Homo sapiens: one gene and its partners. The protein of the gene in region 1 purifies or fractionates together with the protein of each later gene. This does not show direct contact. Each region holds a gene or a part of one and is shown in the gene's direction. Other genes may lie near its edges. The genes, in order: CUEDC1, TRMT61B, TXLNG, HECW2, STXBP4, CCDC102A and SPIN1.

The links.
Region 2: the proteins of CUEDC1 (region 1) and TRMT61B purify together in Homo sapiens (co-immunoprecipitation; one large-scale study listed by IntAct). This does not show direct contact.
Region 3: the proteins of CUEDC1 (region 1) and TXLNG purify together in Homo sapiens (affinity purification with mass spectrometry; one large-scale study listed by BioGRID and IntAct). This does not show direct contact.
Region 4: the proteins of CUEDC1 (region 1) and HECW2 purify together in Homo sapiens (co-immunoprecipitation; 2 studies listed by BioGRID and IntAct, with this or other methods). This does not show direct contact.
Region 5: the proteins of CUEDC1 (region 1) and STXBP4 purify together in Homo sapiens (co-immunoprecipitation; 2 studies listed by BioGRID and IntAct, with this or other methods). This does not show direct contact.
Region 6: the proteins of CUEDC1 (region 1) and CCDC102A purify together in Homo sapiens (co-immunoprecipitation; one large-scale study listed by IntAct). This does not show direct contact.
Region 7: the proteins of CUEDC1 (region 1) and SPIN1 purify together in Homo sapiens (affinity purification with mass spectrometry; one large-scale study listed by BioGRID and IntAct). This does not show direct contact.

The regions. Positions count from the first base shown.
Region 1 is NC_000017.11:57,948,528-57,952,523, reverse strand, and holds part of CUEDC1 (CUE domain-containing protein 1), read left to right. Parts: intron 1-3,996.
Region 2 is NC_000002.12:28,849,113-28,853,597, reverse strand, and holds the end of TRMT61B (tRNA (adenine(58)-N(1))-methyltransferase, mitochondrial precursor), read left to right. Parts: intron 1-1,098; coding exon 1,099-1,190; intron 1,191-2,299; coding exon 2,300-2,526; intron 2,527-2,987; exon of another isoform or gene 2,988-3,192; coding exon 3,193-3,270; exon of another isoform or gene 3,271-3,355; coding exon 3,356-3,399; 3' UTR 3,400-3,656; coding exon of another isoform or gene 3,657-3,748; 3' UTR 3,749-3,777; downstream 3,778-4,485. Other genes in the region: SPDYA (speedy protein A), read right to left, coding at 3,657-3,748.
Region 3 is NC_000023.11:16,792,865-16,796,860, forward strand, and holds part of TXLNG (gamma-taxilin), read left to right. Parts: intron 1-3,996. UniProt on the Homo sapiens protein: May be involved in intracellular vesicle traffic. Inhibits ATF4-mediated transcription, possibly by dimerizing with ATF4 to form inactive dimers that cannot bind DNA. May be involved in regulating bone mass density through an ATF4-dependent pathway.
Region 4 is NC_000002.12:196,222,910-196,226,905, reverse strand, and holds part of HECW2 (E3 ubiquitin-protein ligase HECW2), read left to right. Parts: intron 1-1,035; coding exon 1,036-1,134; intron 1,135-3,996. UniProt on the Homo sapiens protein: E3 ubiquitin-protein ligase that mediates ubiquitination of TP73. Acts to stabilize TP73 and enhance activation of transcription by TP73. Involved in the regulation of mitotic metaphase/anaphase transition.
Region 5 is NC_000017.11:54,975,010-54,979,005, forward strand, and holds part of STXBP4 (syntaxin-binding protein 4), read left to right. Parts: intron 1-3,996. UniProt on the Homo sapiens protein: Plays a role in the translocation of transport vesicles from the cytoplasm to the plasma membrane. Inhibits the translocation of SLC2A4 from intracellular vesicles to the plasma membrane by STX4A binding and preventing the interaction between STX4A and VAMP2.
Region 6 is NC_000016.10:57,515,987-57,519,982, reverse strand, and holds part of CCDC102A (coiled-coil domain-containing protein 102A), read left to right. Parts: intron 1-1,241; coding exon 1,242-1,358; intron 1,359-1,705; coding exon 1,706-1,915; intron 1,916-3,519; coding exon 3,520-3,690; intron 3,691-3,996.
Region 7 is NC_000009.12:88,475,387-88,479,633, forward strand, and holds the end of SPIN1 (spindlin-1), read left to right. Parts: 3' UTR 1-3,308; downstream 3,309-4,247. UniProt on the Homo sapiens protein: Chromatin reader that specifically recognizes and binds histone H3 both trimethylated at 'Lys-4' and 'Lys-9' (H3K4me3K9me3) and is involved in piRNA-mediated retrotransposon silencing during spermatogenesis.

The DNA.
Region 1 (3,996 bases):
CGGATGCGGTGGCTCATGCCTGTAATCCCACCACTCTGGGAGGCCGAGGGGGGTGGATCACCTGAGGTCAGGAGTTTAAGACTAGTCTGGCCAACATGGTGAAACCCCGTCTCTACTAAAAATACAAAAATTTGCTGGGTGTGGTGGCGTGTGCCTGTAATCCCAGCTACTCAGGAGACTGAGGCAGGAGAATTGCTTGAACCTGGGAGGTGGAGGTTGCAGTGAGCCGAAGTTGTGCCATTGCACTCCAACCTGGATGACAAGAGCAAAACTTTGTCTCCAAAAAAAAAACATAAATAAATAAATAAAATAAAATAAAATAAAATAAAATGAAGGGCATTGGAGACCCTAAAGCGCTGTGGTCCAGTGGTCCTTGACTTGGGAATTGAAAGTGTCTTGGTGGCATGCAAAGTCCTTGTTGCAGTGACTGAGGATTCACCTTCCCCAGTGGCCATGACTTCTCAGTCATGCTGTGGCCCTGGCTACCATGGGTTGGTGAGTTCAGGATGCTAGCTGTGTTGGCTCACTCAGTGTTTCTCTGATCCCCTTGGCTTCCAGGCTCCCAGAACCTCTGATGTGTCAGCGCATTATCACAGACTCTTGATGATGCAGCTAAATGTCTTATCTTTAAAGCAGGTCATAAATGATAAATGTGATAACAGTCCTTGTAAATATAAACTCCCTTCTTATAAATGTGACCATTTCATTTGCATTGTGGCAGCACCAAGGGTCTTTGAGGAATTCTTGGTAAGATAAAAATGTTTAGGCTGGGCGTGGTGGCTCCTGCCTGTAATCCCAGCACTTTGGGAGGCTGAGGCGGGTGGATCACCTGAGGTCAGGAGTTCGAGACCAGCCTGGCCAACATGGTGAAACCTATCTCTACTAAAAATACAAAAAATTAGCCGGGCATGGTGGTGCGTACTTGTAACCCCAGCTACTTGGGAGGCTGAGGCAGGAGAATCATTTGAACTCGGGAGGCGGAGGTTGCAGTGAGCTGAGATTGCACCACTGGACTCTAGCCTGGACAACAGAGTGAGACTCTGTCTCAAAAAAAAAAAAGTTCCAACTCCACTGGCTTAACTTCCACCCCCAGGAAGCAACTGAGTTATTTTGTGCACATTTTCATCATAGCTTAGTTGTTTAGAGTGTAAGATCTGAAGTTAGGCATCTCCAGGTAGAATCCCAGCTCTCCATCTTACTCTAAGACTTTGTAAGTGCCAGAGTTTCCTATATTTAGAAAGAGTTAAAAGAGATCTCATGTGTATGCCAGACAAAGAGGAAGTGTTCATTACATCGAAGCTATTATTATTATTGCCATTTCTGCACAGCGGTACACAAATTCTGAGGCTCATTATTAAGGAAAATCTTTGGTAAAAACTGTAGAGGCTGAGGGTGGATTTTGGAAGAGTGGGAGGGGGTGGGGTGAGGCTCTTGAATGATGAGCAGAGAGGACCGCACAGTGGAGGCGGGGGTGGGGAGACTGAAATGTCATGGGTGACAGCTAAGCATATTTGGGGGCAGAATGACTCAGCATCTGTAGCCCTGCTGTGGAACCAACTCTTTTTCCTTTTCTTTGGAGAATTTGCCCTGTAAGCTGGGGGAGGGGTGAGGAGGCATAACCAGTGAGAAGGGTTGAATGGCATAAAGTTAATACTAACATTGGTCCAGAGGAACAGGGCAGAGTTCCCTGGAGGAAGGGAACCTAGTCAGGAGATCGGGGCAGGCCCAATAGGCAGTCAAGAGTGCAAGCTCACAGGGTGCAGTGGCTCACGCCTGTAATCCCAGCACTTTGGGAGGCCGAGGCGGGCGGATCACCTGAGGTCAGGAGTTCGAGACCAGCCTGGCCAACGTGGTGAAACCCTGTCTCTACTAAAAATACAAAAATTAGCCGGGCATGGTGGTGGGCGCCTGTAATCTCAGCTACCCAGGAGGCTGAGGCAGGAGAATAGCTTGAACCCAGGAGGCGGAGGTTTCAGTGAGCAGAGATCACAGCGTTACACTCCAGCCTGGGCGACAGAGCGAGACTCTGTCTCAAAAAAAAAAAAATAAATAAATAAAAAAATAAAAAAGAGGCTGGACACGGTGGCTCATATCTGTAATCCTAGCACTTTAGCAGGCTGAGGCAGGCAGATTGCCTGAGCTCAGGAGTTGAAGACCAACCTGGGCAACATGGTGAAACCCCCGTCTCTACTAAAGTACAAAAAAATTATCCAGGTTTGGCGGCAGGCGCCTGTAGTCCCAGCTACTTGGGAAGCTGAGGCAGGAGAATCGCTTGAACCCAGGAGGCAGAAGTTGCAGTGAGCCGAGATCGCGCCACTACACTCCAGCCTGGGTGACAGAGTGAGACTCTGTCTCAAAAACGAAAAGAGTGGAAGCTGTGGGGGCCAAGGGTTTCTGTGAAGGGATAGGCTTGGGAAATAATCATTGCAGCACTCACAGAGGGGTCGGACCCTTTCCAAGTACTTCACATGGATTAGCTCGTTGAATCTTCACAGGACCTATGAGATATTATACCAATTTTTCAGGTGAAGAAATAGAGACATAAGAGACATCAAGAGTTTAAATAACTTGCCCAAGATCACATGGCTAGAAAGTGGCAGAGCCAGGATTTGAATTCAGGAAGTCTGGCTGCAGGCCCACACCCTTAGAGAAACTGTCAGGGCTGGGTGTGGTAGTTCATGCCTGTAATCCTAGCACTTTGAGAGACTGAGGTTGGCAGATCACTTGAGCTCAAGAGTTCTAAACCAGCCTGGGCAACATGGTGAAACCTCATCTCTACAAAAATTAGCTAGGCGTGGTGGCATGTATCTGTAGTCCCAGCTACTCAGGAGGCGTAGGTGGGAGGATCGCTTGAGCCTGGGAGGCCGAGGTTGCAGTGAGCTGAAATTGCACCACTGCACTCCAGCCTGGGTGTCAGAGCAAGACCCTACCTCAAAAAAAAAAAAAAAAAAAAAAAAAAGTATGTCAGAGACACCCCTACTGAGCTCGGGGGTGGTCGTGGTGGGGGAGGGTGGAGCTGGGGGGGTTGTGGGATTTGTGTCCTGCTTGAAGGGCTGCCAGTGCAATGTCCAGGCATCGTTGGAACATGCCTGGAGGGTTCAGCTTAACAGAGTCTGCTGAGAACCACTGGCCAAGTGCCAGATACTCTGCTGGGGCCCATCCTGGAGCACAAAGGTCATCAAGCCATGGCCCCTGCCTTCAAGATGCCTCCTGTCTAGTAAGGGAGACAAACATGTTAGCCTGGAATTTCAGTTTCTGTGGCAAGTGCTGCGATAAGACAAAGCACTGAGGAAGGGGGCACTTTGCCAGCCAGAAGAGGAGTTGGGGCAGGGAAGGCTTCCTGGAGGAGGGGCCGCTTGAGCTGAGTGAGGACAAGATAAAGTGGCTGCTGCCTCCTGGGCTTTTGATCTGGCATGGGAGCACATTGTTCTCCCCCTTGGTGAACTCTGAGTAGAGCTAAGTAGCGGTGTGGGTTTCAGAGAAGGGTCAGGTTTTCTGGATTCTGTAGCACCCTTGCCAGGGTGAGGCAGGAACTGGGCAGTGTGGTCAGCTTTCCTGATGCCTTTGTGGTTTTTAACAGCTGAGAAACACTGCCACCTCTTGTAATGCCTGCAGTGAACATGGTGAAGAAGACATAAAAGTCCCTTAAGAGTCATTGCTCAGAACACAGTGATTCACTCTTGTCTCTCTGCACTTAGAACCAGAGGCAAATGAATTTAAACTACAGAGGGAGGATTCAAGTAAGGTATGAGGAAGACATTCCAGATAGGATGTGAGATGTAAGAAAAGTGACTCATAGGCACAGAGGGGAATGGCCTCCCCTGAAGGTCTTCAGAAATGGGAACAAGTTTCATTTGTCTTTGTGGTTTAAGAGGTTTCATCTGGAGACAGGAAGATGAAGTAGAGGCCCCTAGAGGTCCATGTCAGCTCGGTGATCGGAGGATAAAAGGAGCTGGAATTTTTGAGCTAGAAGATTACTTAAATTTGGCCTAACCC
Region 2 (4,485 bases), on another chromosome or scaffold:
CCCAAAGTGCTGGGATTATAGGCGTGAGCCACTGCCTCTGGCCAACAATGTGAATTTCTGTTGCCAAAGCTGAAATAAAGCATTTAAATTTATAAGTTTTGGCAATAGAAATTCACATTGTCAGCCAGGTGCAGCGGTTCACATCTGTAATCCCAGCATTTTGGGAGGCCGAGGCGGGCAGATCGCTTGAATCCAGGAGTTCAAGACCAGCCTGGGCAACATGGCAAAACCTGTATCTACATAATATACAAAAAGTTAGCTGAGAATGGTGGCGCCTGCCTGTAGTCTCAGCTACTCGAGAGGCTGAGGTGGGAGGGTTGCTTGAGTTCAGGAGGTGGAAGTTGCAGCGAGGTGACATTGTGCCACTGTACTCCAGCCTGGTCAACAGAGCGAGACCCTGTCTCAAAAAAAAAAAAAGGAAATTCACATTGTCTCAAATGTTTAAATTTTTCATGTTGTAATGGCGTGTTTTACACTTGGCAATATTGATAATACAGGCATACAGGAATCTTTCTTTGGTTATATTCATATATACATACATAGCCAAATCAATATTTCCATATTAATATGCAAAGTACAAGACATATCATTATGATTTTTCAGTATCATCAAGTACTATGACAAATTGTTTTTTCTTCCCTGAGACAGGATCTCACTCTTGCCCAGGGTGGAGTATGATGGCACAGTCATAGGTCACTACAGCCTCGAACTCCTAGGCTCCAGTGACCCTCCCACCTCAGCTTCCTGAATAGCTGGTACTACGGGCTTGTGCCACTGCATCCAGCTACTTTTTTTTTTTTTCAATAGAGTCAGAGTCTCGCTATGTTGCCTGGGCTGTTCTCAAACTCGGCCTCAAATGGATCCTCTTGCCTCAGCCTCCCAAAGTGTTGGGATTACAGGCAGAAGCCACATTGCCCAACTGTATAATAATTAACATACCCTTTTGGGAGTGGTAAAATGATAGTTAATAATACTACCTTCTAAAAAATGAAATACTTTGATTGCTGTCCAAAAGTGTGTCATTTCACCACAATAAGAAAACTTATGCTTTATTTAAACGGAATCAGACTGATCCAGTTCTCTTTTTCCCCCACACAGGTAGCTTTGGATATGTTAAATCCTCATGTTACTTTGCCTGTTTTTTACCCACATCTTAAGCATGGTGGTGTATGTGCTGTATATGTAGTAAAGTGAGTAATATAACTGTTTTTCTTTGTAATGTAACTTTTAAGTGCACTTTTGCTTAAGTATCAAACTAAATTTTTTTTTTTTTTTTTTTTTTTTTGAGACAGAAAAAAACTCTGTCACCCAGGTTGGAGTGTAGTGGTATGATCTCAGCTCACTGCAACCTCCACCTCCCCTGTTCAAGCAATTATCCTGCCTCAGCCTCCCAAGTAGCTGGGGTTACAGGCGCCCGCCACCACGCCCGGCTGATTTTTTCTATTTTTGGTAGAGAAGGGGTTTCACCATGTTGGCCAGGCTGGTCTTGAACTCCTGACTTCAGGTGATCTGCTCACCTGGTCTCCCAAGGTGCTGGGCTTACAGGCTTGAGCCACCACGCCCAGCCAAAATATTCATTTTGTAACTGAATAAAGTGTATATGGCATCTTATACAACTGTTTTAAAATGACAAGTCCCAAGTTCATTTATATTACTGTATATTTATTTAGTGTTTTTTTTTTTTAAACTTTTTTCGTTTTTTTTTTTTTTTTTTTTTTTGAGACAGAGTCTCGCTTTGTCACCCAGGCTGGGGTGCAGTGTCATGATCTCAGCTCGCTGCAACCTCCGCCTCCTGGGTTCAAGTGATTCTCCTGCCTCAGCCTCCTGAGTAGCTGGGATTACAGGTATGCGCCACCACACCCGGCTAATTTTTGTATTTTAGTGGAGACAGGGTTTCACCATGTTGGCCAGGCTGGTCTGGAACTCCTGACCTCAAGTGATCTGCCCCCCTCAGCCTCCCAAAGTGCTGGGATTACAGGCGTGACCCACGCCCAACCCTATATTACTGTTTAAATCATTTTTTACATAAATAGTAATATAAGATGCATATTTTCTTCTGACAATCTGGAAGAAATGTTTTAAAAGTATAATGTGAACAGTAATGTTAAATTATGGTCTCTGTGTTTGTTTACTTAGAATTTTGTGAAGGTACTTTTTATGCCTCCTAACTTGCATATTTAAACCCTCTCCTGCCTTAATTTAACTATGGTATTTAAATGTGGGCAAGAGGTATAGGGAACTTAAATAAATATAATGTTATTATTTTAGTAGAAATGTAAATTTTTCACTTTTCTGAAAGCATCACACAGGTTATTGAACTTTTAGATGGAATTCGCACCTGTGAACTTGCTCTTTCATGTGAAAAGATAAGCGAGGTCATTGTCAGAGATTGGTTGGTTTGCCTTGCAAAACAGAAAAATGGAATTTTAGCTCAAAAAGTAGAATCTAAAATCAACACAGATGTACAACTAGATTCTCAAGAGAAAATTGGAGTTAAAGGTGAGCTGTTTCAAGAGGATGACCATGGTGAGCTTCAGTTTTACTTTATGCATGCAGTAATGAATGGAGAATGAGTTCCTGAGTATACTGACCAATAGATTATAAAAATATTCCTCAGCAATTTTCTATAGAAAAGTGTGATATTTATTCTGTTAAGATGTATAAGGCACAGAATAATGACTTTTCCTGCCTTTTACTTAAAACTCTGATACCTTTGAAGAATTGAGCTTTTTATAATATTCATATTTTACTTGTCACAAGGAGCTTGGTTTGTGAAATAATTTAAATGTATTAAGGATGTTTTATATTTAGATCACTGATTATTAATGGGACCTGATAGGCAAATAGCTAATATTCCAAAAAGCAACTTCTAAGATGCTGCTGGAATTCTTGAAAGAACTGAGTTTAGGTCTTTGTCATATATACACATTATTTAGGCCATGAACAAGTTTTCAAGTATCAGTTGATTTATGATATAGGCTTATCCATTTGGTTATAAAATCATATGTTTATTACATAATCATTGACAAATAGTTTCTGTATAATAACTGGCAGAGTAGCTCTAAAACATATGCAAGGAAATAAATAAAGAAAAAACTTACAATAAAGAGAGTAACTCATATTTTAACAGTTTTGTGAAAAAAATAGAAAATATTTTATGTAGCTTATAGTACATATATTTTTTTACAACAGAAGAATCGCATTCTGATTTTCCATATGGATCATTTCCCTATGTTGCTAGACCAGTACACTGGCAACCTGGTCATACAGGTGAGTAATGTTTTCAGAACATATTAAATGGTGTTTTTTCTTTTAATTAATATAATGACTTTATGTTTTTCTTCTCTTAAATTAGCTTTTCTTGTCAAGTTGAGGAAGGTCAAACCACAACTTAACTGAGTACTCCAGATGACAGTAACTGACTTGAAGATGGAAAAATATCAAAATAGAACTTTATATTGAAAATCACTGCTTCCATAGATTGGCATTTTTAGCTATTACTATGACTTATATAACTTATACATATAATTTTGAAAATAACAACTAAAAGATGTATAACATAGCAAAACTGCTTAAACATCCCATTTTGACACTTGTCTTGCAGTTAGTTTGACATTTTGTAGTTAATGATTCCAAATTGGTTTAGTTGGGCCATCTCATTCTTCACTTCCTGTAAACCACTCCATAGATTTGTCTTTCTTCAAGAAATTAGTTTTCTTTCCTTTATTTGATTGATGGTCATTGACTACTGAAATAAAATATGCATTTTAAGATAAATTTTATGTATCTGTCCATTTTAAATACATCTTATAATGGCTTGTATATGTCTTAAAAAATAATAAGGAAATCTGGGCTACAGTAAATAATGGGGGGAAACTTAAGAATGATATAATCACCTTAAAAATTGTAACAAAAGATGTAACAGGCTCTTGAATCTCTTTTATCCCCTCAGAATCTTTTTAACCAGCTTGAAAGAACATTAGAATTATTCAGTGTTACTACACAAATTAAATGTTTGGGGGCTGGGCACAGTGGCTCACGCCTTTGGGAGGCCAAGGCAGGCAGATCACCTGAGGTCAGGAGTTCGAGACTAGTCTGGCCAACATGGCAAAACCTTGTCTCTACTAAAAATACAAAAATTAGCTGGTTGTGGTGGCGGGCACCTGTAATCCCAGCTACTTGGGAAGCTGAGGCAGGAGAATCGCTTAAACCTGGAAGGCGAAGGTTGCAGTGAGCTGCGACTGTGCCACTGCACTCCAGCCTGGGTGACAGGGCGAGACTCCATCTTAAAAAAAAAATGTTTGGGGAATACATTTTGGAAACATGAATTAATTACAAATGGGACTTATTATTCATAGGCACCAGTTATTTAGCACTTACCACATACCATACATTGTTTTGAAAACTTTATATATGTTTTTCACTTACTATGGACAACTTATCTTTCAGGTTATCCATATTTTACAGATAAACAGTGACTTAGAA
Region 3 (3,996 bases), on another chromosome or scaffold:
GGCAGGTGGATCACCTGAGGTCAGGAGTTCAAGACCAGCCTGGTCAACATGGTAAAACCCCATCTCTACTAAAAATACAAAAATTAGCTGGGCATGGTGATGCATGCCTGTAATCCCAGCTACTCGGGAGGCTGAGGCAGGAGAATCACTTGAACTTGGGAGGCGGATGTTGCTGTGAGCCAAGATCGTGCCATTATACTCCAGCCTGGGTGACATAGAGGGAGACTCCGTGTCAAAAAAAAAAAAAAGTATACAATAATATACAAATTTAATATCATATTCATCAACATTGAGATGGGACATTTCTAGAAGAGGGTAGAAATAGGTAAGGTGACCTTTAAGATCCATTAAGACCCTGGGAGTACATTTTTATGTTTGAATCTACCTCCTAGTTGAAATTCTGTTGGCACTTATAAATACTTACATTTTATTACTTGAAGGAAAAGATACATAAAATAACTGGTGTTTTCCTCCTATGCTATCAAAATAATTGTATTAGCATTTATTGCTTAGGGTGTTGATTTGCATTCTGTGTTGCATTTCCAAAACGTCCCTAGAATGACCTCTGTTATCTCCTACTTCCCACCTTATAGTCTGTCCTGAGTAATATTTACTGGCTACTTTTTTTTTTTTTCATGTTTCTTCTTTCCCTACTCTCAAGGTAGTAGAATGGTTTGGCAAGAAAGATGTGCCAGTAGCTTAGAAACTCATTTCTTTATGGGTCTTTTGGATTGCAAAATGGGCCATATTAAAAGTGAGAATGAATGCATTTTGTAAAATATCTTTTTTTTTTTTCTTTTTTTTTGAGACAGGATCTCCCTGTGTTGCCCAGGCTGGAGTGTAGTTAACGCTTATTGCAGCCTTGAACTCCTGGTCTCAAGTGATCTTCCTGCCTCAGCCTTCCTAGTAGCTAGGACTACAGGTGTGTGTGCCACCATGTCTGGCTGTTTTTTTTCTTTTTTTTGAGAGACAGGGTCTTCCTATGTTGCGCAGGCTGGTCTTAAACTCTTAGGCTCAAGCATGATTCTCCTGCCTTGGCCTCCCAAACTGCTGGGATTACAGGCGTGAGCCACTGCACGCAGCCTGTAAAATGTCTTCATTCAAATATTATAACAGTTCTGCTATGTGTCAGCAGTTTATATCTATCAGCAATTTATACCTATTATATCTACTTATGGCGCTAAGAAGGTAAGTACTGTACATCCCAGTTTACAGATAAGGAAACTGACAGGTTGGCCTCCCTATGGCCACACAGGAGATGCTAAGTGGTATATTCAGAGTTTCGGCTCTTTGGGCTCCAAAGCCATTGTCCATATTTCGTATCTCTCATGTTAACATTTCCTCAGATAGTAAAGGTCACATAAGTGCCCCTAGTTGAAAGTGAGCAAAACATGCTGGTAGATAAAATAGTAATAGTAATAGTTTTTGCTAAACGAAGACAAATTATGAGGGATGGAGTTGGATGATTAGGGGATATCGAAAATTGATTGTAATTTGGGGACCAGAGGAGTTTTGAGCCTCTTAATATCTTTTGCTTCATTCACCTAGGCCCTAGGTTAACCTTGAGATTTATGATTTAGGAGGTATGCCATGCTACAACTTCCTGCAACAGTACCTCCAAGTGTAATTTGAATAAATTGAAAGGTAGAGAGTTTAGAGAGACTCTCTTTAACTTCTTGTAAATAAAGTTCATATAACCTGGTGTTAGCAAAGAGTTGAAGTGGTCTGGGGAAGTAAGACAAATAAAAAGAAGGCTTGATGTTTCAGAGGTGTATCAGGATTGGTCCATATGGATCTAGGGAAGGATGACTTCATAAAATTGGGACAGGGATGTTCACTTAGGTAACCCATAAAAGTAAAGGACCATTTTACATCTAAGAGTCTGTGGCTTAAAGATGCTAGTTGTGTGACCCAGCCCCTGTCCTGTAAATAGATCAGGTCCAAGTATATTTCAGTGGCTTTGGGCATTAAAATCTTTGAATGTCCTGCTCTTTTGCTGCTGAAATAGGTACTTACACTAATACAAGTATCTTTCAGATTGCAGATATTCATTGAGTTACAGTTTTAGAACTAGAAGTGATTTTGCAAATCATGGAATCCAGCATCCTTTATTTATATAAAAGAATAATTTAGCTGGGCGCGGTGGCTCACACCTGTAATCCCAGCACTTTGGGAGGCAGAGGCAGGCGGATCACGAGGTCAGGAGATCGAGACCATCCTGGCTAAGATGGTGAAACCCCATCTCTACTAAAAATACAAAAAATTAGCCAGGCGTGGTGGTGGGCGCCTGTAGTCCCAGCTACTCGGGAGGCTGAGGCAGGAGAATGGTGTGAACCTGGGAGGCGGAGCTTGCAGCGAGCCGAGATTGCGCCACTGCACTCCAGCCTGGGCGACAGAGCGAGACACTGTCTCAAAAAAAAATAAAAATAATAATTTATTTTTATAAAAGAAATAGCCACAGAAGTTAAATGCAAAATTTAATGCAGTCATTAACATTCACTTATTAAAAGGCAAATGATGTACACAGTCTAATATAGATGTTACCAGTAAATGTACAATATTAGCACTTATACTGCTAGGTTATGAGACTAAAGAAGCTGTGTCCAAAGTAGACCTTTCCCGGATCCTTTTACTCATTCTTGGTTTCTTCCCCAGTGGGGGAGATCAGGTTCCCTCATCCCTTAGTTTAGCACTAGTCTGCCTCTCTTTTCTTGTCATTTACCTACTAATGGTTCTGTGTGTTCTTTGTGCTCTTACATGCTGTGACAGTTACTCTGGATCCTTTAGCTGCCTGCTCCCAGGTAGTAGTTAGGACAACTCCTAGAACTTACCCTGCCTCCAATTTATGATCCCTCCTTAGAACTCCATCATTTCTCTGGCTTCATTTATTTAGTAATTTGTTTGGGTAACATGCCATACAGTTTGCCCATTTATAGTGTATAATTCAATTTTTTTTTTTTTTTTTGAGTCGGAGTTTCACTCTTGTTGCCCAAGCTGGAGTGCAGTGGTGCGATCTCGGCTCACTGCAACCTCTGCCTCCCGGGTTCAAACAGTTCTCCAGCCTCAGTCTCCCGAGTAGCTGGGATTACAGGTATGCGCCACCGTGCCCGGCTAATTTTTTGTATTTTTAGTAGAAACGGGGTTTCATCATGTTAGCCAAGATGGTCTTGAACTCCTGACCTCAGGTGATCCACCCACCTCAGCCTCCCAAAGTGCTGGCATTACAGGCATGAGCCACTGTGCCCGGCCTCACTTTTTTTTAGTATATATTCAGAGTTGTGTGACCGTCACTACACTTGTTCATTTTTATTATTTTTTATTAGAGACAGAGTTTTGCCATGTTGTCCAGGCTGGTCTCAAACTCCTGGGCTCGAGGGATCCTCCAGCCTTGGCCTCTCAAGGTGCTGGGATTACAGGCATGAGCCACTGTGCCCGGCCGCACTTGTTTATTTTTAACATAACCTGGGAAGAGCATGCTCTTTAGAGAGTATGCCCTTTACAGAGAAAGACAAGGATTCAGTCTCTGCTTTCCTTTCCTAGGTTCCTGACCGTGGACATCGTACTTAAATTACCTTATCACTGAGGCTGCTTGTTTATCATACCTGCCTATAAGATAGTTCTGAGAATTAAATGAGGAAGTAGTCTATTAAATACTGTTACAGAGGCTTCTGAATGAGCCAGAGCAATGAAGGTCAAGGGAAAGTGTTTATACCAGTTGTCCCTCACCACCCATTTGGATTCCACTGATTGGCAGATCTGTCACTTAACAAAAAGGGGGAAAGATGCCTATTTGTTAGGTGTAGTTGAATAAGAAGGAAGTGGCACTCTTCTCCCTGTTCTCCTCCCTGGTCCCAGGGCGTATTCCCTAGAGGTGGATCTGCCTGCTTATTGCTGCCAAGATGTGGACCCCTTTCTGGTCATGGTTTGACAGAGCTGGCCTTCTAGTCTCTCTATTCCTGCTCCCACCACAACCAGGACAGCAGTTCTCAAACTTCG
Region 4 (3,996 bases), on another chromosome or scaffold:
AAAATTTCCAAAGTGATTCAGAATAGAATTGAGCCTTGAAATTTTAGAGAACAGAATGTCCCAGAAGGAAACTCCCCCAAATGTCCATGTGCACAATTCTTGAATGGTGAAAATATCAGGAATGGGTCTTGAGAGAGAATAGGGATAGGAACTTTCTTGATCTGAGACTGGGCCTTTCCTCAGAAAGGAATTGCTACTGAGTTTGTATTGAGAAATTCTGCTAATATTCATGCATACACACTAGGAGGGAATAGCATTTTCCCCACCTCCAGAGGTCTCATCTGTCAACATCTCTTAGAAGTGGTTTGGGGAAATGTCACTGAAATGCTCACAGGGGATTCATGAATGTGGGGTGCTACATTGTTGATATGCAGTGAAGGTGGAGCAGGGTCTCTAAATATGAGTGAAACTGATTCTTCAACAAGTAGGTATGAATTACTGGCTGTTTTAGCCCATTCTTGCATTGCTATAAAGAAATACCTGAGACTGGTAATTTATAAAGAAAAGAAGTTTAATTGGCTCATGATTCTGCAGGCTGTACAGGAAGCATAGCACCCAAATCACTGGGCTTTGGGGATGGTCTCAGGGAGCTTTTTCAATCATGGTGGAAGGCAAAGGGGAAGCAGGCACATCATATGACAAAAGCAGGAGGGAGAGAGAGAGAGAGTGTGTGTGTGTGTTGGAGGGAGGTGCCACACTTTTATATGACCAGATTTCATGAGAACTCACTATCATGAAGATAGCACCAAGCCATAAGGGATCAGCCTCCATGATCCAAACACCTCCCACCAGGCCCCACCCCCAGCAATGGGGATTGCAATTCAACATGACATTTGGGCAGGGACAAGTATACAAACTGTACCACTGGCCTGATGAAGACACAGCCCATGGTGCCTACAAATTCTCACTACCTAGTAGGCAATTAATATTGGAAAAATTTAGATGGTTAGCGCTGGAAGGCATTCTAGAAAGCATATGGAACCACCTAGAAACTGCTCCATGACATGTAAGCCATCTCATGTGTTTCCTTCACAGGTTCCGATTCAGTGGTAGGATCCTTGGTCTTGCACTAATACACCAGTATTTGTTGGATGCCTTCTTCACACGGCCCTTTTATAAGGCTCTTCTCAGAATGTAAGAATATTTTTATTGCCTGCATAATTAGCATGTAAAATGCAGTATTTACTTTTTTGAAAAAATTCTTCTGTCAAAGTCATTGTTTATCTGTTCACAATCTCAAATTTGTTGTTATTAAACCTAATAGTGGTTTAGATTTCTGAAACTAATGCAATTTCAAATATGATTACTGTGTTTTTCCTGCCTCTGACCTATTTAGCCCCCAGATTTTTAGTTTTGCTCTACCCCCCAAAATTTATTCTCATTTGTTGCAGCATGTGTTTCTTTAAAACAATTGTACTTCAAACACAGCCCTGGGATTCCTGTGGTATTAATGCAGATTATTAATAGAATTGTTGTGGGTTAGTCTTAGTGACTCACAGCCCCCCTCTCCTTTATGAGACACATTTTATATTTGGCTTGATGCATATTTTCAAATGCTTACTCCTCGTTCAAATCTTCATTTTCCTTTGTTTTGGTTTTGTTTTTTATTTGTTTGTCAAGGGTGGACAGTGCCATATGTTTCTTAAACTTTCTCTATGCCCTTAGTAATTTATTATGGAAAATGAAAATTCAGCATTCACAGAACTTTTTCTTCATTGTTAATGAAAGATTGCAGTTATTGTAAAATGTAGGGCTAATTGTTTCTGTCCTATAATCAGCAGCCATTTACAAGGCTGAACAGAAGACAACTGTCTGTGGGATAGTAGCTCAAATTTGCGATGAGAATGCACTGAATTATCACTTGGCTCTGTCCAGCTCATACCCTAACTGAGGCCACGCACTTGCTTACTGTAAAATGGAAGCCTAGACCTCAAATGAAAGCAAACAAAATGCTTCTTGTGGGCCCTTGGGAGGGTCAGTAGAAAGACTTTTGCCTTCTTCTCTTTCAGTGTCTTCACAGCTGTAGCACTGGGGAACAGGTGCCGTTTTCTGTCTCTTTGGTTCTTTGTGGCCCACTTTGCATCTTCCCATTTCATTGCCTTATCTCTTATCTTCTCATTTAAGCTTCCTGAAAAACTAGTCTATACTGACTGTCTACACTTACCTCAAATTCACACCCTAAGCACACTTCAGCCTGGTTTCTTTCCCACCAGAAAACCTGTGGAGGCATTTAAAGAATACTGATTAGTCCGTATCTTATTGGATCATGCTGCTGCTTCTGACACTGTGCACCACCCACACCCGCCACCATTTATTCCTGTGTCTTTCCTTCAGAGCTGGCATCTATGACACTGTACTTTGCGGGTTCTTTTTTTTAACTTTTCTGTCCCTTCATGAGTCCCTCTTCTGATTTGCCCTTAAGTCTTGGTGTACCTGAAGCTTCTATCACCAGGCCCCTCGTTTTCTCACTCAGTGTGCTCTCATGGGGGAATTTCTTCTCCTGTCTTATCTCCTCTGACTCCCAAATCTGTACTCTCAGTCATGATCTCCCTTAAGGTGTAGCCTCACATGGTCAACAGTCCACCAAATATCTCCACTCGGATGTCTTACAAGGATCTCAGAATCAACATGGTTAAGACTAAGCTCATCAAGTTTCCCTACGTAAAAGTATACCTTCTCCCATATGCCCAGTTACAGTTAATAGTGCCACTATTCTCAGGCCACTCTGGTCAGAAATTGGGAGTCACCCTTAAACAGCGATGACAAATACACACGGTACATGTTCTACTCTTCCCCATCTCTACTCTACCCCATCATTCCCAGGGTAGAGTTCACAAATCACCTGTGGTACTTTTTCCCACTGAACTCACTGTGGCCTCAGAAATCTTTTTAACTTATAGTGCTCAAGCCCAGCAATTAATTACAGTTAGTTTTGACATGAGTTCGTTTGTCACCCCTGTTTTAGATATCCTTCTTTATACTCCCCCAATAAAACCATTTCCTGATTGCTACATGTTTGCCTCCTAAATGATTTTCAAATTCATCTTCTTCTCTCCAACCTTAATAGCACAGCCCTAGTTAGAGCCCTTATCTTATTTTGGCCATATTACTGTAGTGGTCTATTCATTGGTCTCTACCCTCTAATGATAACCACCCCTCATCCCACCCCATTTTAAATAATCCTTCACACTGGGACTTCCAGAGGAGCTGTTTATAATTCACATTTCACGTCTGATCATGTCATGCCCTGTCTTAAAATCTTTTGGTAGTTCTGAATCACCAATCTCCTTAGGATGATATTAAGGCCTGCTCCCTTGCTGGCCTCATTCTCTAGAAATTCTGTCTTAAGGTTAACTCTCTCAAACTGCTGATATGCTTGGAGTTTCCTGTACACATCCATGCCTTGTATTTTGTTCATGTTATTCTCTCTTTCTCCTTTCTCTTTCCCCTTCTCCTCCTTCATGTATTCCTTTTTACGTCTCTTGCTTTTAAACATCCTGAAAGATTTAATGTAGGCATCATCTTCTGCAAAAAGCTTTTCCTGAATCTCTCAGTCAAAGAAAAGGCCCCTCATGTGTGCTCTGACACCTAAATCCCTATCCCTACCTTATCTTTTCTTAAATTGAAGTGTGACATAGATTTTAAAAGTACATGAATTTTAAGTGTTACCAATCTTATGTTATCACTTATCGCTTTATATTAACTTATCTGTTTGTGTACTTGGCTCCCCAACTAGCCCATTAGCTCCTGGGGGTAGTGACTATTCATCAAGTAGCTATTCAGATGTCTGGTACATGCTTGATGCCTAATGAATGTTCAGATTGAACTGAAAAAAAATGACCCTTAAAATTGGGTTAAGGGGAGTGAAATTTCAAAACAGCTATAGCAAATCAATGACTACCACTGTACAACTGGGCCATGGAACAGTAACTTACCTCATGTCGATTCTTTCTCTACAATTAAAAAAAGTGGGGGAAAAATACAGATTGACGGCAG
Region 5 (3,996 bases), 3.0 Mb from region 1:
GGCCATGTCTTCTGGAAAGGCTTCTATCCAGGAACTTTTTAGCTGATCCTCAGGTTCGTTCCAAGTCCTGATTCCTACCCCACTTAGATAAGCCCTGTGTTTGTTTAATGCTCTACTGTCAGCATCTTGAAATTATTTTTTGTTTTTGAGACGGAGTCTCACTCTGTCACCCAGGCTGGAGTGCAATGGCATGATCTCGGCTCACTGCAACCTCTGCCTCCCAGGTTCAAGTGATCTTCCTGCCTCAGCCTCCTGAGTAGTAGCTGGGATTACAGGCGCATACCACCATGCCCTGCTAAAAATTCTTAATAATTATTTAACATGGGGCCTTGCATTTTCATTTTGTATTGGGCCCTGCAATTTATGCAGCCAGTCCTGGTCAAGATGTAAATAGATATAAATATAGATAGAGATGCAGATACAGATATAGGCACAATATTATATCTCAAATGCACTGACAGACAGTCTCACATGATTCAGGCCAAAGCACAGTCTAATTACGTGATTTAATTATGTGATTAAAGGCAAAGGCAGAAAACTAGGGAAAGTACAAAAGTGGAGAGCCTTTAGAGCCTTTACTTTTAACCTTTAGAAGGTTAAAGGTAAGAGATAAAGGGAAAGGCAAATTCAGGTCTCCTGAGAATAGTCAGGTTAAGTGAAATATGATCAAAACTCCAAACTTGCTACCATAGCCCATAAGACCCTAGGAAATCCAGACCCTGCCTACTTCTCTAACCTTATCTCCTACCACTCTCTCCCTGTTCACCACACTCCAGTTGCACTTCTTTCTTTTCTTTAAACACCTCAAGTTTGTTTTACTGCCCTCAGACCTTTTCTCTGCCTGGAATGCTTTGTCCCTCAGCTTTTTTCACAGATGACTTATTATTTGGATCTTAGCTGGGACACCCTCCCCAGTCTAAATTAGCCCTTCTCTCCTTAGTCACATTTGCTATCACCTTTCAATATCTGAAATCTAGTTCATTTAATTGTATCTTTTTTTTATTGTTTTTCTCCCACCACTAGAATGTAAATACCAAAAGAGCAATGATCTTGACTTGTTCACCATAATATCACATGCCCTTAGTGTTGTACCTGCACATAATTGTACTGAGTTAAAAATTTGGTGGATGAATGCATGAATGAAAGCAAACAGAAGGCAGTCCGGTAGCCTAAGGAAACTTCTGAGAGCAGTGAGCTGTTGTGCTGATGAAGACTCCTTTCAAGAAGACTAAGACTTTCTTTGAAGTAGTTTTCTGATGTTTCCCACTGAGTTGGGCTGTGTGTTACAGGCAGATGCTTATGCATCCTGAAATAGGACCAATTGTCCCATAGAACTGATATTAATCATTTCTTTGAATAAGCACAGAAATTGATTCTCCCATTGTTAAAACTTGAGAAAGTTAAATTTGTCTTATCTGAGTTACTTTCTCAGGAAACCAACCATCAGGCCTCCCAGATACTATCAAGAAACTGAAACTTACCAGATCATTGCATCTGGACAATATGATACCAGACCCTTCAGCCATCATGACTGCCTTACCCAGGGGTACCCAGTCCTTAGGCTGCAGACTAGTAGCCGTCCATGGCCTGTTAGGAACCCGGCCAGACGGCAGGAGGTGAGTGGAGGGCAAGTGGGCATTACCACCTGAGCTCTACCTCCTGTCAGATCAGTGGCAGCATTAGATTCTCCCAGGAGTGAGAACCCTATTATGAATTAGGCATATGAGTGGTCTAGGTTGCATGCTCCTTATGAGAATCTAATGCCTGATGATCTAAGGTGGAACAGTTTCATCTGGAAACCATCCCCCACACCCCCATGCGTGGAAAAATTGTCTTCCACAAAACTGGTCCCTGGTACCAAAAAGGTTGGGGACTGCTGGCCTAACCAATCACTTGCTACCTGTTGACCAACTCCTCTTCCTTACCCCTCCCTAATTCCTGTTTTCCCACACATACTTACATTTTTTCCCTGCCATATAAGCCCCTAATTTTAGCTCGTCAGGGAGAGGGATACAAATTTCCCATCTCCTTGGCTGCGGCACCCAGTTAAAGCCTTCTTCCCTGGCAATACTCCTTTCAGTGATTGGTTTTCTGTGTAGTGAGCAACAGGACCTAAACCGAACCCCTGGCATTTTGGTAACACCCCCAAGACAAATGAGTAGCATTTCTGAACTCGTTAGATTCTTGAAAGAAAAAAACATGCACTAGTAAACAGAATATTGCCTTTGGGTACAGAATAAAAGATAATAAAATACAGTTGGCCATCAGTATCCGCAGGTTCCACATACACAGGTTCAACCAATCACAGATTGAAAATGAACATTAGGCCTACAATGGCTGTGTCTTTACTGAACATGTACACACTTTTTCTTGTCATCATGCCCTAAATAATATAGCATAACATATTTACATTGTGTTTTGTATTATAAGTAATCTAGGGATGATTTAAAATATAGGAGAGGATATGCATAGGTTATGTGCAAATACTACACCATTTTATATCAGGGACTTGAATATCTTCTAATTTTGGTATCTGCAGTGTCCTGGAACAAGTTCCCTGAAAATACTGAGGGATGACTATAACTCTTTGATCTTTTATATATTGGTTTCCTGAAACTTTCATGTCATTTAAAAATGATCAGTTAAGTTTAGCCCAGGGAAAATAGTCATTCCTGATTTTGCCAATTTTCTTAAACAACCTTAGGATTATATAAATAGCTGATGTTATCTTGAGGAATCTCTGCTGTGATAAGGTATAAAACAAGTTACCAGTTTCTAAATGCTGTCATTTTTGTGTCTCCTCAAGTATAATACATCCAACTTTATAGGAAGAAATATTTACATTTTTAATATTAGCTTTAGTGAATAAATAAATAGTAGGCATTTCTAACTTGTCAGTCCACAGAAACCAGACAGATTATTTACTGAGCAGCCAACATCATTGTGCCCTCTTCCTCTTTTGAAATGACCTTAATGTGAAATGTCACTACACTAGTACACTTTTCCCTCCACTCTAATCCCTCCCAAATGACCAACTGCAGCCTACCCCATCCCATTCATGGGTCATACTGATCTTAGAGGTGGACGTATATTTTAAAAAGAAAATCGTTCCCTCAAAAAACATTGGGAGACTTGTAGTTTAATAAGCCTGCCATAAAATTTTTGATTTGTAGAGCCAAGAAAGAACCTTTAAAGATCATTTTATGAATGATTTTGACATCGTACATATGAAGACTAGGGAGCAGAGTAAGTGGCTGCTCAAAGTCATATGTCTAGTGGGCATCTACCCTCTGGACTGGTACTCTTCCCAATGCAATAAAAAAAACATGAAATATATGTACTATGTAATATGTACTATGAGCTTCTTTGCTATGAGTCATCTTTCTTTTTAAATTATAGCAGAAAATAAGTGTATTTATTTCTACTGCCTGTCAATTTGCTTACAAAGGAGTTGTCATAAGAAGTTATTTAAAGGATGTAGCTGAATTTCTTTGTGAAACACCAGATCTATGTTATTTTCTCTTTTAAATTGCAACATTTGTTGATACCTTAGCAAATGAAGATGAAAGAAGAAAATAACATAAAGGGTAAAATGACATTAAAGGAGACATAATTAGAAAGAGCTGATATTTAGATGCCAAGAAGGTACACTGGAACATGGTAACTTTTTTGATATTTTTCCTTCTTTATCCAAATAATATATCAAAGTATATATCCTTGTTGTAAGCCATTCAAAAAATAAAGAATAACTTAAAGAAGGAAATAAAAATAACAGTAAATAAAAATAGTAGTTCCAAGTGTCAGTTATTGTTTACATTTTATATTTTTAATAAATGTAATTTTAAAAGATGAAATTATTCTACACATTCTGTTTTTACCTTGCTGTTGTTTTTTACCTAGACCATTTTTGATGATTACATAGTATTGTTTTACATGATTATACTGTAAATTATTTAACCAGTTATCAATTTTTACATATTTTTGAGGTTTCTGATA
Region 6 (3,996 bases), on another chromosome or scaffold:
CTGCCACTACGGCCTCCTGTGCAGGCCTCAATGGCCACCAGAGGGCGCAGCCACCCAGGGAACGCCACACTGGATCGGTGGGTTTCTAGCAGCTGGGAGGATCACAGAACTTTAGAGCCTGAAACTGTCCTGGAGGGGACCAAGACTGGTCTTACATGAGAATCTCTGAGGAAATCTCCTAAAATACAGATTCCCAGACCTCGCCTCCACCCTCCTGAATCAGCACCTTTCAGGGCTGGGTCCAGGACCCTGTTCTTTTAGTCTTTTCAAATTATGAAGTATAATCATTCGAAGAAAAGCGAATGAAACACAAATGTACAATTTAGTAGAAAATTATAAAGGTTCTCTTTTGTATCTGGTGTCTCTCCCTCAACATTATGTGTTGAAAACTCATCCGTGTGTTACAGGGAGCAGCAGTTTGTTGGGGTTTGCTGTATACCGCAAGAAATGTTATTGTCTTAAATGCACGCCAAGCAATGCCGATGCACCTGTGTGCAGAGCAGTGTTGGAATTAGTCACTGTACACTGAGGGCGGCCCTGTGCCCAGGCCATACAACGACACAAAGGTGGACAGACGCACAAGCTCCCCGTCCTCCCAGGCTAGCTTTCCAGTGGGGAGTGGGATGAGGAGGCCCCTCCTCCAGGCCAGGTGGGCAGAAGAGGCATTCCTAAGGAGGGGGCCTTTAGGTCAAGGCCTGAGAATAAGAAAAATCAGTCCTAAGAAGTGTCTCAGAAAGATCCACGCATGTGCAAAGGCCCTGTGGTGGGCAGGAACTTGGTGTGTCTGAGGAACAGAAAGGAGTCCCTGGTGCCTGGAGTACAGTGAACTAAGGGGGAGCGGCGGGTAGGTGTCCAATCGTGCAGGGCTTTGTGAGAGCGTAGAGAGGAGTTGGACTTTACCCTAAGGCACCTGGGAGCCATCAGAGGCTTTGTGGGAGGAGGGTGGTATGATTGCATTCATCTTTGTTAAAAGCTCCCTCTGGGCTGCTGTTGTAGAAAACGGGTTGACAGAGAAGGGCCAGGAGTAGACACTGGGAGGCTAGACAGTAATGAGGAGGAGAGACATTGGGAGGAGCAGAAGTGGTCAGATTCGAGGTCTGTTTGGAATACCTGGTGCCTGCCCCATTTGGGCGCTGCCTTGGCTCCACGCTGAGCACTCCTGCACTGGCGCCCACCCCCGGAGGTGGTTCCAGGCTATATCCTGGTGGTTCTCATGACCAGGTGGGGCCTTATCCCTGCAGCTCAGCATCCTGAAGGAGGCGCACCAGGACGAGCTGGGCCGCATGTCTGAGGACCTGGAAGATGAGCTCGGTGCACGCTCCAGCATGGACCGGAAAATGGCCGAGCTGAGGGGCGAGGTGAGGCCATGGATGGGACCCAGGAGGACCTGGGTTTAGGGGTCCTGGGGCCCTGCTCCATCAGCAGGTCACTGGGAACAGGGCAGGGGCCAGGACTGTGCTCTGAGCGGGGCCAGCCACATCCAATGGTGTCCTGATCTGCAAGAGGCAGGCCTCTCTCCCACACAGAGGCCAGAAGCGCCCTCACATCCTGTACACCATGAAATGAGCCCAGCTTAATTACAGCCAATGCAGCTGGATCTGCTTCCTGGAGCCAAAAATGGCTCCAGGAGGTGGCGGGGGCATCCAGCTCAGGCCCTGCATGCCCCCTCCGCTGGGAGTCCTCACTCTGCCCTGCCCTGCTGCAGATGGAGCGGCTGCAGGCCGAAAACGCTGCGGAGTGGGGCCGCCGGGAGCGGCTGGAGACAGAGAAACTGGGCCTTGAGCGGGAGAACAAGAAGCTGCGGGCACAGGTCGGAGACCTGGAGGAGGCGCTGGCCCGGCGGCGGCGGCAAACAGCCAGCGCACTGGACTGCGACCTGAGGGCCAGCCAGGCCGCGCTCTTCGAGAAGAACAAGGTGGGGCAAGGAGTGGAGTGGCCAGTGCTGGGGCTGCCACCTCCCCATCCAGCCAGAGCGCAGCTTCCCTACTATGTGTCAGGCCTGGTGATAATTATGGTAGCTGCATGTATTCAGCACCTTGTGTGCTAGACCAGTTGGTAATTATAGTAGCCGCATTCATTGAGCACTTACTATGTGCCAAGCTCCACTCTAGGTGCCAGAGACACAGCACTGAACAGACAGATGTGGCCTCCCCTCTTCCCCTCATGGAGCTGAAGACTTACTTGGGGGATGTACACATGGCTCTCTCTGTCACACAGATTCATGCCAATCACACAGCTTCATGGTCACCAGCAAGAAGAGGGGATACTAGGAGACCTGGCTTAGGCCCACGGTCCTGGAAATACCTCCCGGAGGCAGTGACATTTTAAACTGAGTTCTCAGCCAGGCGCAGTGGCACACATCTGTAATCTCAGCACTTTGGGAGGCTGGGGTGGGCAGATCACCTGAGGTCAGCATTTTGGGACCAGCCTGGCTAACATGGCGAAACCCCATATCTACTAAAAATACAAAAATTAGCCGAGCATTGTGGGCACCTGTAATCCCAGCTACTCGGGTGGCTGAGGCAGGAGAATCACTTGAAACCGGGAGGCAGAGGTTGCACTGAGCTGAGATTGCACCACTGCACCCCAGCCTGGGTGACAGAGAAACTCCGTCTCAAAAAAATAATAATAAATAAATAAACTGAGTTCTCCAGGAAAAGCAGCCGTTAACTGGTAGTGTGCGGATTTAGGGGAGGGGATGGAGAGAAGTTAGGAATAACATGAATAAATGTCCGTGGTGAAAGAGACACAGAGCTTTGGAGGAACAAGTCCAGTGTGCTGGAGGGGAGTGAGCGGGGGGATGTGGTAAGTGAGGCACGAGTGGTGGGACTCTTCGAGAGAGTTTAAAGCAGGAGGGGAGTGTGAGCAGGCTGTGTGGGCAGAGGATGGGAAGACAGGCTGGGGGGAAGCTGTTGACATTCCCTGGACAACAAGAGAGGGAGGAGACCTGGACCAGGTTGCAGTCAGTAGAGATGGAACAAAAAGGATGGACTCAAGAGACCTTTAGGCAATGCCTATTCCCATTTTACAGAAATGGAAACTGAGGCTTAGAGAACTCACAGAGCTCCAGGGTGGGCATCTCTTTTGCTGGCTGCCCTTCCTCTTCCCAGCCACTCTGGGCTCTGAGACACCCACCCATTCCCCAGCCTAGCTCATTCCCAACCCAGCTCTTTCAATGCCATACGCCCCTGAAGACTCCAGACCTCATCCTTCCCCGGAAACCCCGACCCTGCTCCAACAGCTCCAGGGTAGATCCAGTAGCATCTGAAAGTTACACATCCAAACCGGAGCCACAGGTTCCACCCACCCAGCCTTCTCACCTCCCTGGAAGGCACCTCCAGCCTCTGGCTGCTCAGCCAAACCTCTACTGCTGATACTTCAGACAACAGATGGAGAGATTCTGGGAAGGAGAGACACCCAGCATCCCTAGAACTGCCTGACCTCGTGGGACTCCCTGGCATGGCGCCCAAGCTGATACTGATTCCCTCCTCCCTCCCACCCCATCCCTGTGCCCTGTAGGAGCTGGCAGACCTGAAGCATGTGCATGGCAAGCTGAAGAAGCAGTTCCAGGAGAAGGTGGCAGAGCTGGCACATGCCAACCGGCGGGTGGAGCAGCACGAGGCTGAGGTGAAGAAGCTGCGGCTGCGGGTGGAGGAGCTCAAGAAGGAGCTGGCCCAGGCTGAGGACGAGGTGAGGACCACAGAGGGGCAGGGGCAGCAACAGACCTTGGCCAGGGAGGAGTGGGGGCCGCAGGGCCATCCTGGCTTCTCCATTCTCAGCCCCTGGTGCCTGGCACAAGCCTGTCTCTCAGGAGTCGCCCAGGATAGAGTGGGTAGGTGCGTGATGAATGGATGGCAGGATGGACATGTGGGTGGGAAGATGGGAAGAAAAATGAACAGAAGACAAGATGGATGTGTGCATGGATGAACCAATGGGTAAAGGAATGAATGGATGGATGAATGGGAGAGAGAGGCAGGGCGGGCAGATGGATGGGTG
Region 7 (4,247 bases), on another chromosome or scaffold:
CCACAATCTCTGCCAGCAGAACTGGTTTTGTTCTGAATAGTACAGATTGATGTGAACACAAAGCATTTTGTGTAAGGAGAACCCCTTTCTTTTAAAAGAAGTCTGTCTATTTCGAGGGGAGTTACAGGCAAGTTTGGTAAAAGTTAAGCTAGTATCATAGTCATTTAAAATTGTAATAGATCTTAACCATTTTCCCCCTCACCCTAACTCTCTTATTCTGCCGCCACAATGCAAGCATAGTTTGATGTTTTCGTTATTGCCTTTTTTGAGATGTATGTATCTGTATCTACCTATATCTATATGTGTGTATACATATATAATATATACACACAGATACAAGTGTACACACACACACCACACACCACACACACCCCACTGGCAGTCTTTGTGGATTAGGATGGGGGTGACATAATTTTCTTGAGTTTAACAGGAGTGCTTTACCCAAGTCAGTCATGGATATGATATCACTGCTCTTTATTTAAAAGTAAACTTTGGGCACAGGAACCATATGGGAACATTCAGCTTGTTTAAAAAAAAAAAATCAGAAGTTCAGAGCACCTTTTCAATCTGGAGCCCTTAAACCATAAGTCCAAATATGAATTATTTGTGAACAGTTAATGACCCATATTAGAATTTTACAATCTGGTGAACAATCTGGGTAAAAGGCTACCTTTAATTCTAAGCTTCATTTTTTTTTGGGGGGGGGTTACATTTTAATCATAAATTCTTTTTTGCAAAGCCCAGGTTCTTGTTCCACACAGTGTAATGTAGGTGTATTTTGGACAGCACATATGGTCCATTGTGTACAAGTCAGTAATCTGGATTTCAGTACATGGATTTAAAAGGCAACAATCCATCACTGGTTTGTGTGTTTTTGGTTAAGTTTCTGGAAGAATACAATGCTTTTATATTGGAAGTATAAGTTTTGAGTGGCATTGTTGCCTTCTAACAAGCTCTCTGGGACTTTTAAAGTTTTATTACTATTATTGCTAATGTATGATTATGGTCAGAGACTTTCAACCCACCCCTTCCTGCCTACCCCTGGCTTTTCCTCACAAAGAATGTCTAGACAAACAGCAGCTTAGTCTCCTGACACCTCTTGTGGGGTGCATGTTCCTGCTCCAGGTATGCTGTTCATGTGGATTCATTCCATTCAGTGGCCCCTTGGGGTTTGCATGCCAGTGAAGCGTTACCATAGAAGAGCCAGCCGTTTGTGTTCGCTTGGTAGGTGTAAGTAATAGCAGCCCTTAGCCACGGAGTCTTTATGTGGTTTATTCCTGCAAGGTTGTTTTAAACTGAAATAGAACTGCTAGTGTGATTGGTTGATCAGCAAAACAGCTGCTCTCATTTTGTTTTGGAGGAACCCTGGTGGTTTGACAGCCAGGAGAAAGGCCATATGTGAAACCAGTCTCTTGTGGAGATTGGAAATCCTCCCTGATATTTGGGCAGAGCCTAAACGTGCATGCTTGTCACTCAAACACCAGAAGTTTGAATCAGAGGTCTGAGTGACCTCTTTTGTGGCTGTTCTTGATGGTTTCCAGGCCTCGTTATGCATGGTTTGCTTGATGCCCATTTTTTGTGCCTTGTGCTGTTGGATGGTAACGACCACTCACCATGTAAACACAGTACCTCAGTTTTCTGTCCACAGCTGCAGTCGCTCTGTCCCTCGTGCTTCACTGTGGGCAGCCAGGGACAAGCTTCTGAAAGCAGTGTGATACCCAAGTCATAGGTGCTTCTCGTATGTGAACAGGTGTCATTCTACAGATCTGTTATGTGTTTTCCTGTTGACTCTTAAGAGTCCCTGCATGTAAATCTCAAAGCTGAGCCTGGCTCCCAGAGTCCAGACTGACATTACAGCGCAAGAGTTTGCAAGTGTGTCCAGCATGCACCAACTGTGCAGAACTTGGCTCGGTAACTTTGCGTGGAAAAATAAAGTACATTTTGAAGTATCTTGAGGGTTGGGTCAATTGAGACATTTCTAGCATTACTTAATGACTTGCATTGTGGTTTTTCTGCAAGCAACTTTAATGACTTTTTTTATACCACATGGTCTCCCAGTTTCTAGATGAATGCAACATGATGATGGTGATGATGACGATGAGTTTAATCATTGTTCATTTATTGCCTTTAGGGCTGAGGGAAAGGGAAGGTTTGTTTTTTTTTCTCCCCATTTTCCCCCATTCTGTCTTTCTTTTGGTGACTTACACCACATGTAATGACGCTATGACTAATTCTGCTCCCAAGCCCTTGTATCTTGGGCTTCATTTTAGGCTCATGTGTCAGATCTGCATGCATTGCTTGCATTTTTCTGGTATCTGAATGTTGGTTCCTTGTTCCAGGAATTCAACATTAATTTCCAAAAGTATCATGGGACTTGTGACAATACAAGACATGAATCTATGTATAAAATTTATCGGCCTTTCTCATTTACCTGCTCTAGTATTATTGTATTGTGTGTGCGTGCGTGTGTGATGTCAGGCTGCCACGTAAAACTTCAGAGAAAAATCTTAAAAGCAGACCATCCTTTTTTGCATGCTCTATTCTAAGTAGAATGTTCAATGTAACTGACTAAAATTGCATGTTAAAGATATTTAGGTTTTTTTGTTTTCTTTATTTTTATTTGTTTTCAGTTTCCTGTATATTTGCTTACTGTGCCGTTTTAGTGGTTTTAGGATAAAAATGCACTGGTGAAGCAAATGTAGTGCCAACAGAAGGTGATTTTCCAGTTGTAAATGTCATGCAGCATTTGAAGGGACTGTGTTTTCTTAAAAAAAAATCACAGTTACTTCTAAACCAGATTTCATTTCTTTTATTGTTTTATGTGCCAAACCACGAAGTGCATTGGGCTTCAATCTCTGAACACTGTAGACCCATTAGAAGACTGTTCCGATTGTTACAAATTGTAGTGCCTGAAAACACTCTTAAGCTGATTGTCTTAACAAAATGAAAGTTCTCCAAAGACAAAACAGAACAATTATTATAACAAAATAATTATGGTTGAAATGTCTGTGGTTCCTTGGAAATGCTGCGCTCTTTGTGTTTTTCCATCATTAGTGCAGTTGGAATGAATGTGTATAGGTCAGAGGTCTTCGTGTTCACATTTTAAAATTAGGTAAATGACCTCATCTTTCAAGCTTGAATTCATTTTTAATTTTAATTTTATTTTATACAATGTGTAGACAGTTCCCTGTTCTCTGCATTTAGAAGTATACACAATATAAATCTGTTAATTCTGTAAGTAATTTTTATAATTATGATGTAACTCTATCTTATCCTTAAAACATTTAAAATAAACCCTTTATGTGCAACTCCTGACTGTAAAGTTTGTGCTGATGAGCAACATGTGATGTGTTAAACTTGATTCTGAAAAGTTTTTTGGGCCAAGTAACCTTTTCACCACATGTAAATGTCAGATATGCATAGAAAGAAATAGAATTTTTATTTGATAACATTCAATAATACCTGAAAGAAGAGGAGGCAGTCATCAATATCACACATATATTAAATATTGAAGTTTGCAATTTGACATTGAGAAAGTTTAACTTACAAGATCTTAAACTTAAAAAAATTCTTTTAAATATAATTAAATAATGGGTATTTTATACTTTTCACAAGTATTCTTGCTTTGAATATTTCTTATAATGCTTTTACTCATAAATAATAAACAATGGGATTCTATAGTGAAAAATCACTATTTCTCAATGCTAGGATACAAAAAAATGAAAGTAATATAGGCTGGTGCAAAGTAATAGCAGTTTTGCCACTGCTTTTATGGCAAAAAATGCAATTACTTTTTCACCAACCTAATATTAACACCTATGTATGTTTTATCTTTCTTGATTATTTTAATCAGTGAGGTAAAAAGTGGAATTTATGGCATGCTTTAATAAGATTTTTTTTTTTAATGTTTCCCAGTTCATTTTGGCCTAAGGATCTCATGCTTAAGTCTGGGATATTTACCTGCCTTTGGGAGAATGGTTGATACTTGGTGAGGGATGAATGCAAACTTGGGCTTTGGGACGCTGGGCTTCTAGGTTTGTGTCAGTGCAGTGCCTGTGCTCCAAGTCCATGGAGGTTACTGAGGTGGACTGAAGGCAGGGTCTACTCCGGCTTAGGTGGAAGAAGGCTGCAGTTCAAGGAGGAAATGAGCCATTGGGAAGCACAGGTGCCTCTCTTGAGTCTGGGTTTTCTGACCTTCCTTGCTGAAGGTAGATTATTCGTTGTCTGTGTTATCTGTCATGGGTACA